Linked DNA regions of Homo sapiens. Each later gene encodes a partner of the first gene's protein in a complex. Each region holds a gene or a part of one and is shown on either strand. Other genes may lie near its edges. The genes, in order: CDC45 and MCM2.

Evidence for each region.
Region 2: CDC45 (region 1) and MCM2 share a complex: the UniProt entries of both Homo sapiens proteins name them as parts of the CMG helicase complex.

What each region holds. Positions count from the first base shown.
Region 1 is NC_000022.11:19,482,920-19,486,737, reverse strand, and holds part of CDC45 (cell division control protein 45 homolog), read right to left. Parts: intron 2,877-3,818; coding exon 2,733-2,876; intron 1-2,732. UniProt on the Homo sapiens protein: Required for initiation of chromosomal DNA replication. Core component of CDC45-MCM-GINS (CMG) helicase, the molecular machine that unwinds template DNA during replication, and around which the replisome is built.
Region 2 is NC_000003.12:127,611,908-127,615,725, forward strand, and holds part of MCM2 (DNA replication licensing factor MCM2), read left to right. Parts: intron 1-3,818. UniProt on the Homo sapiens protein: Acts as a component of the MCM2-7 complex (MCM complex) which is the replicative helicase essential for 'once per cell cycle' DNA replication initiation and elongation in eukaryotic cells.

The DNA.
Region 1 (3,818 bases):
GCACTCCAGCCTGGGCGACAGAGCGAGACTCCGTCTCAAAAAAATATATATATACCTCTAATATACACATACTTAGTTATAAATCATGCACAGGTTTTAATTATATAAAAAGTATTCTTCTCAAGAATGCTTAATGTTATTAAAATCAACGCTCTAGACCTAATTTACAGATCATAGAAAATGCAGGGATAGAGAAGCAAGTTAAAGTACTCCATGAAGAAACAAGTAGTAGTAAATATTAGAAAAGAGAACTGGCCTTCAATGTCATTAAAAACAAAAGAAAAAAAAGAGGTAAGGTATGGTTCTAGGTTAAGACAGTAAAGAGGAATAGCTAAATGTCTTAATCTTGATTGGAGAATAGTTCAGAAATAAAAATAGCTGCAAAATATATTTTGAGGACAATTAAAGAGACCTGAATATGGGCTGAATATTACATGATATTAGGATATTATTAATTTCTTATGTATGACAATGGCATTGTGTTTATGGGGAAGAATGTCCTTATTCTTAGGAGCTGCTTATGAAAGAATGTGTAGAATATCATGGTTTCTGGCTGGCTGTGGCAGTGCATGCCTGTAATCCTAGCTACTTGGGAGGCTGAGGCAGGCGAATCGCTTGAACCCAGAAGACAGAGGTTGAAGGGAGCCGAGATCGTGCCACTGCACCCCAGCCTCAGTGACAGAGTGAGACTCCATCTCAAGAAAAAACAAAATAAAAAATAAAAAAGAATATCAGTTTCTGCAATCTATTCTCAAATAATACAGAAAAAAGAATACACAGAAAGAAAGCAAATGTGGCAAATGTGAAAAACTGTTTTTGTTTTTTTTGAGACAGGTTCTCTTCATGTTGCCCAGGCTGTTCTCAAATTCCTGGGCTTCATCAATCCTCCTGCCTTGGCCTCCCAAGTAGCTGAGACCACCTACAGTCATGATCCACTGTTGACTCTAGATTGAAGGTACATGGATATTCACTGTACTATCCTTTCAACCACTGTATACATTTCAAAAAATTTCAAAATAAAAAGTTGGTGGGAAATTATGCCTATTATAATCCATGAATATTATGTTAAACATTTACAAACACAAATTCCAAATTGATGTGTTAAGTATGTAAAAGGAAACGCTGATTATTTTCCTGTATCTCATCAAGACAACCTACCTTCTCTTTATTGCCAAACCCACTGGTCTGTTCTCATTTGCCTGTTCCTTTGGCACTGCTGGCCAAGCCTTCCTTGAAACTTTCCTTCCCACCTCAGAGCTGCAGTGTCTATGGATGCTCTGCCCAGGAATCCTCTTGGCTCCATCCCCTGCTAACTCATGTTTGATACCTGAAAGCTTTCCCTAATTGTGCTCATTTACATGATCAGTATCTGTCTCCCCCAATGGAAAGCTTTGCAAAGGCAGGACTTTGCTCTCATACCCGCACCCCAGGGCCTAACTGGTACCTGGCACATAGTAAGTGCTTAAAAAATATTTGTTTATTAGTCAGAGTGGAAAATTCCAAGACTTATCTGTAGAACATGAATGTTTCCCGGGAAATCCCATTGGATACTGACATTTGGGAACCAATGAAATGCAGCTCATCGATAGTTAAAAGAATGCTATATAAAAAAAAATTCAGAGAACAAAAAGGACCCCTCACAAACCAAAGATTAGAAGATAAAGACCAAGCTGAGTGTAGTGGCATGTGCTTAGTCTCAGCTACTTGGGAGGCTGAAGTGGGAAGATCGAGTGAGCCCGAAGTTTGAGGCCAGCCTGGGAAACAGAGAGAGACCCCGTCTGGGGAAAAAACAAAAAAAAAACAAAAAACAAAAAGTCTTCCAAAAAATAGAACAAAGAGCTGGGCAAGAGGTAAGAAAATATAACAGTGGGTCCAAGAGGTTCCCTATGAGACACCCAAACCTAGTGAAAGGGGTGACAAAGGTGAGAAAGAAGAGAGAAGCATGCCTCAGTTTGAAGGGCATTGCCCCTTCCCCAAATGAAGAATGTCTTGAACATCTCAAATATGGCTCAAAAAGGCTTCCCAAAAGCACATTACCGGGAAATGTCAGGCTGAGGATGAAGGGAAGACCCTAGAACATTACGGGGGCAAATTCTAGGTCACACACCAAGATCAGGAGCCAGAGGCCATCTTCAAAAGCATCACGTGGCCCTCCGTGCTATGGGAACAACCACCTTCTGCCTGTCATTTTACATCTTGCAGAAGCCGTAGTGTTGGGTAGGCCACTGGGCCCAGCCCCAGATCACTAAGCAGCTCAGACCCAAGGTCCACATGGTGAAAACCACTGGTATCTTCACATACAAGATACCTCCCCTGCAGTAATTGTCTGGGACTGGGCCTGGCCAAGGGATGCAGACCCACATTGCTCCTCTGCAGTGACTGCATAGTAAGTGATGCTAGAAGACAGTAGAAAAGGAAGGGGTGGGGGTTACACTATTTATTGCTTCTCTACATTATTTTTTTGCTATCTAGCCGCAGAGCTGAGCTGTCCTAAATTTCATTTCTTCTGACAGGATCCTATTGGACAGATAAGCCACTATTTAGGGAAGTCCAGTAACCTGCCTGAGGCCACATAACCAGGGGACAGCAGAGCCCAGGGTCAGCATCCATGCCTGCTAACTTTTCCACTTCCCACTGCCCTCAGTACACCTTGGCCTGGCAGGCTTCAGGATGACCTCCGACCTCTGGGAGTGCAAGTTCCTCTGGGATAGCTGTGAGAGACCCAAACTCACCTCTTCTAACCGTGTGCGCTTCTCAGAAGGCTCTGACCCATCACTGTCATTTCCTGAATGCTCTTCATCCTCCTCTTCATCCCTGAAGATGTCTTCATAGGCGGGAACTTCAAGGTCATCATCTTGTTTAATGAGTAATTTGATCTAAGTTCAAAACAAAAAGGAATTAAGCCTCTCCTCTTTCTACGGAAAACTATACAATATGTTCTTCTGCAGAATCTTATCATTTCCTAATAAGCTGACTCAGTTTCCTGTTCATACAAATAGCTACCTATTTAACAAGAGTTCCAGGCTTCTAAGGAATTTTCTTGTTTTCATTACCAGTGAGGCACCAGAGTTACACCATACGTGGTATGCAGAAATTATGAAAATCTGAAAACAGTTCTTTGAGAACCATCTAGTCTACTTAAGTCTGGAAACACAGCATCCTCTTACGTCATACACCAATAAAATGAACGCCCCACAACTTGGCCTCTGTCTGATATAGGACATGAAGATGTGTAACCCCTAAGTGGTGACTAAAACTCCTGTCTGAAAGCAACTCCAGGCTGATTTTTCTTTTCTTTTTTTTTTGGAGACGGAGTCTCGCTCTGTCGCCCAAGCTGGAGTGCAGTGGCACGATCTCGGCTCACTGCAAGCTCTGCCTCCTGGGTTCATGCCATTCTCCTGCCTCAGCCTCCTGAGTAGCTGGGACTACAAGCGTCCAACACTATGCCTGGCTAATTTTTTGTATTTTTAGTAGAGACGGGGTTTCACCATGTTAGCCAGGATGGTCTCAATCTTCTGACCTCGTAATCCGCCTGCCTCGGCCTCCCAAAGTGCTGGGATTACAGGCGTGAGCCACCGCGCCCAGCCAAGACTCCATTTCAACAAAAATAAAAACAAATATTTGCTGGGCGTGGTGGCATGTGCCTGTAGTCCCACCTACTAAGGAGGCTGAGGCAGGAAGGGTCAGTTGAACCCAGGAGTTTGAGGCTGCAGTGAGCCATGATTGTGCCAGTGTACTCCAGACTCTCCTTAAAAAAAAAAAAAAAAGATGACAAAGACCAAGTTCTTGTGTTCAGGCTGTTCCCAGTCCCACAGGGT
Region 2 (3,818 bases), on another chromosome or scaffold:
CCGGGATGGTCTCGATCTCCTGACCTCGTGATCCGCCCGCCTCGGCCTCCCAAAGTGCTGGGATTACAGGCGTGAGCCACCGCGCCCGGCCAACAGCTGACTTTTTGTATTTGTTTTTATTTTGAGTTAGTTATCATCCTTGAGGGATCCGGAGACTTCACATAGAAATCCGGATGCTTTTTGAAAATCCAAGATCTGTGGGTGCTGGCTCTGTGTTCCTCTCTGGTAACGCTGACGGAGCTGAGGCATAGCTGCCCTTGCAGGTAGGGCCTGTGTCCCCAGGTTTACCCCGTCCCCTACTCTGTCAGTTTCATGGCCCTGCCTGCCTTCCGTGGGCCCTGGACACTGATCTGGTAAAGTATTAAAGAGATCAGGGTCATGCCCAACACTTAGAGATTTTAAAGAACTAACAGAAGCAGCATGCAGTCTGAAGCCAGACTTTTTAGGTTTGAATTTTGGCCTAATCCTTAGGATGGTCAGATGAGTCACCCTTATCTATAGAAATGAGAGGATGAGAGTAAACACTCATAGAGTTGTTATAAAGATCAAATAAATTAGTGCATATAAAGTACTTGGCTGTTGGCGAGTGCTCAGTATCTGGCTGTTACTGTACATGGCTACCAAAGTTAAACTATTTGTACAAAAACTGGATGGAAGAGCCTGTGACAGGCGTGTAGAAAGCATAAGCAGCCAGTAGGTAGGACAAAAATAGCTTTGAGCCTGATGCTTTAGGCATTTTACACACATTATCTCAGGCTCATGGTACCCATGCAGGTGGGTGCTTTTTCTCCGTTTGCTGGGTGGAGCTCACAGTACCCACTCAGGTGGGCACTCTATCCCTGTTTGCTGGGTGCGGAGACTGAGGAGTGCTAGGAAGCAGCACACCTAGAGCCAGGAGGAGCATGAGCTTTGGATTCAGATGCATCTGGGGTCGAGTCTTGCCTCTCCTCTAGGAGAAAATATTTTGACCTGAGCCTTGGTTTCCTCTGTAGGATCGAGAGAAACAAGGTTATTATGAGGATTACATGAGGTAATTCATGGAAAGCGCTGTTATTCCCTGGCAGGTCTGGGATTTGATTCTGCCCCACTTTCCAGCCATTAAATTAGCCTGCTACTCTCTCCTGGAGTAACTGGGTCAGCGGTGGAAGGCACAGCAGGCAGTGTAGGCATTCACACATTTGCGCTGCTTGCCCTCCAGTCCCACAGGGAAGTCCCCCTGGATGCAGTGGTTGCTTTACAGGAGGGGGATTGAGTTGGGCAATCTGCCCTGCATAGCAAGCAGGAAGCTCTTGGCCCTGGAGGGAGACATTACCTCATCCTGCAAGGTTGCTCGCTACAAAAATTATACGGGGAAATGAGCTGGGTTAAGAGGAGTCAAGGATTGGCAGTCTTGGCACATCCAGCACGAGGTGTGTTGGGGCATGAGAGGTCCGTGGAGTGGTCTGCCCAGCATCTGCAGCACAAAGTAAGAGTTTCATAAGAGAGTCATTATACTTACTGAGGACTTAGTATCTGCTTGGCATTGTCTAGGTAATTTCTAGATAGCAATGTTCCTGTGAGGTTTCATCTCTGCCTGTTTTACTGATGAATAAACTAAGGCACAAAAGGTTAGATAAGTTGGCCATAGTCACATAGCAAGTGGCAGAGTCAGCAGCCTGGCTTGAGTCCATGCTCCCAGTGACTGTATTGTGCCAACAGTTGGTGAGTTTATTTGGTTATTGTGAGTTCCATGGGCACTCTGTGTTACATAAGGCCTGGCCCACATTTTAAAACATTGTTACAGAAAATTTCAAACAGGTATGTAGAATGGTGTAGTGAACTTTGACCATTTGTCTTAGTCCATTTTCTGCTGCTACAACAGAATACCATAGACTGGGTAATTTATAATGAACAGAAATTTATTGACTTATGGTTTTGGAGGCTGGAAGTCCAAAATTGAGGGCTGGCATCTGGTGAGGGCCTTCTTGCCATGTCATCCCATGGCAAAAAGGTGAGAGTTAAAGAGACAGAGTGAGAGCCCAGAGGGGGCCAGACTCATCCTTTTACAAGGACCTACTCCCTGGATAGCAGTGCTTTTATCCTCCATTCATGAGAGCAGATCCCTCATGGCCTGATCACCCCTTAAAGGTCCCACCTTTTAATACTGTTAAATGGGGGATTAAGATGCCAACACATGCTTTCTGGGGGGTACATTCAAACTGTAGCACTCTACCCAGCTTCCACAGCTGTCATAGTCACAGCCAATCGAGTGTTCTTAATACACCACCCATTCACCCTTGGTATATTTCAAGGCAAATTCCAGGCATGCCGTTTTTTTCTGTAACTACATCAGTATGTATATGAAAAAGAAAAGACTCTCTTTGAATAAACCTAGCCACAATACCATTATCTCACTTTAAGAGGTGATTAACAATTCCTTAATATCCAATATTCTGTTGTTGTTCACATTTCCCTGATTATCTTACCCCTTCCCCCTGTTTTTTACAGCTTCTTGGAGTCATTATCCAAATAAGATCCATAAGTTGTGATTGGTTGATATCTCTTAAGTCTCATAATCTTTAGATCTTTTCTCCATCTCTTTTTTCCTTGTAATTTTTTGTGGAAGAAACTGGGTCATTTGTTCTGTTGAGCCTTGCAGTCGAGATATTGCTAATTATGTCCCCATTAGACACACACCTCTGTCACCTGTGTTTTCTGTAATTTGGCAGTCAGGCACTGAAGCCTAGTCAGGTAAATGCCTGCTTATTTTCTTTGACTTACTAGTTTTAAAAATAATGAATTGGTTCCCAGGTGACCTGGGTATCATAACAGACAAATAGGCCCGCCGGGTGTTGAGGTTTCCACGCTGCAGGTGTCATCCCTACAATGCTCAAGTGTCCCTTTTTTGCCAGCGTGAACCTATTCATGTTGGCTCCTGAGTTCTGTTGACATGACCCTGGTTGTCTTTGAGTGATTTTTTGCTTTCTGGTAGAAGATATTGCAGGCTTCTCTTGTACATTTCCAGCCCCGGACCTGGAATTGGACATTTCTCCAAGAAGCCCCGTGGGAAGTGTTACTTGCTTTCAGAGGGAGATAGGAGTTAGAGACACCTCTAAAGCTGCATGAATTTGATGGTGCAGGCAGGACATACAGGATGCAGCCTGATGGGGGTGTCTCCCCTCCACCTTCAGGGCTGGTTTTCCTGCCTTAGTCCCCTCTCCCCAGGCGAGGGCCAGTGCTTTCTGAGCTTCTTTGTCTGTCCTACAAGGAGGGAAGGATGTGGGTGTGGCCAGTGCAGGGGGGTATGAAGGCTGAAAGCTATCAAAACATGGCTCTGCTGCAGGTGGAGTTGGAAGCAGTCTCCTACAAGCAAGAAATGTCTTTGATGTCTCTAATTCTATCTAAAATTCATGAAGATTTTGCTCTCTCCCTGTCTCTTTCTTTCTCTCACACACACACTGAAATAGAAATGTTCCAGTGACTCACTAGTTGGAATTACTTCCTGGTGGACACATCTCCCAGATGTGCCACATTTATTGCATTGACGAGGCAGGCACTTGCATGAACTGTCGCATTTGTACCCACCCTTCTGTGAGTTGGATGTTGCCATCTCTCTTTTCCATATGAAGAAACTGAGGCTTGAGGTAGGCCAGTGCCATGACAGACCTGGTTCTGGTCTTATTTCTGCTCTTGGTCTGTGATCTTGGGAAAGGCCTTTCTGAAATATGTCAAGATTAGGGGTTCAGATGAAGGTTCTTCTAAACTCCAAAGTTCTGTGACTCTTGGGAAGAGCCAACTAATGAAAAGCTTTAGAGTCGGGCACGGCTTGATACCAGGGC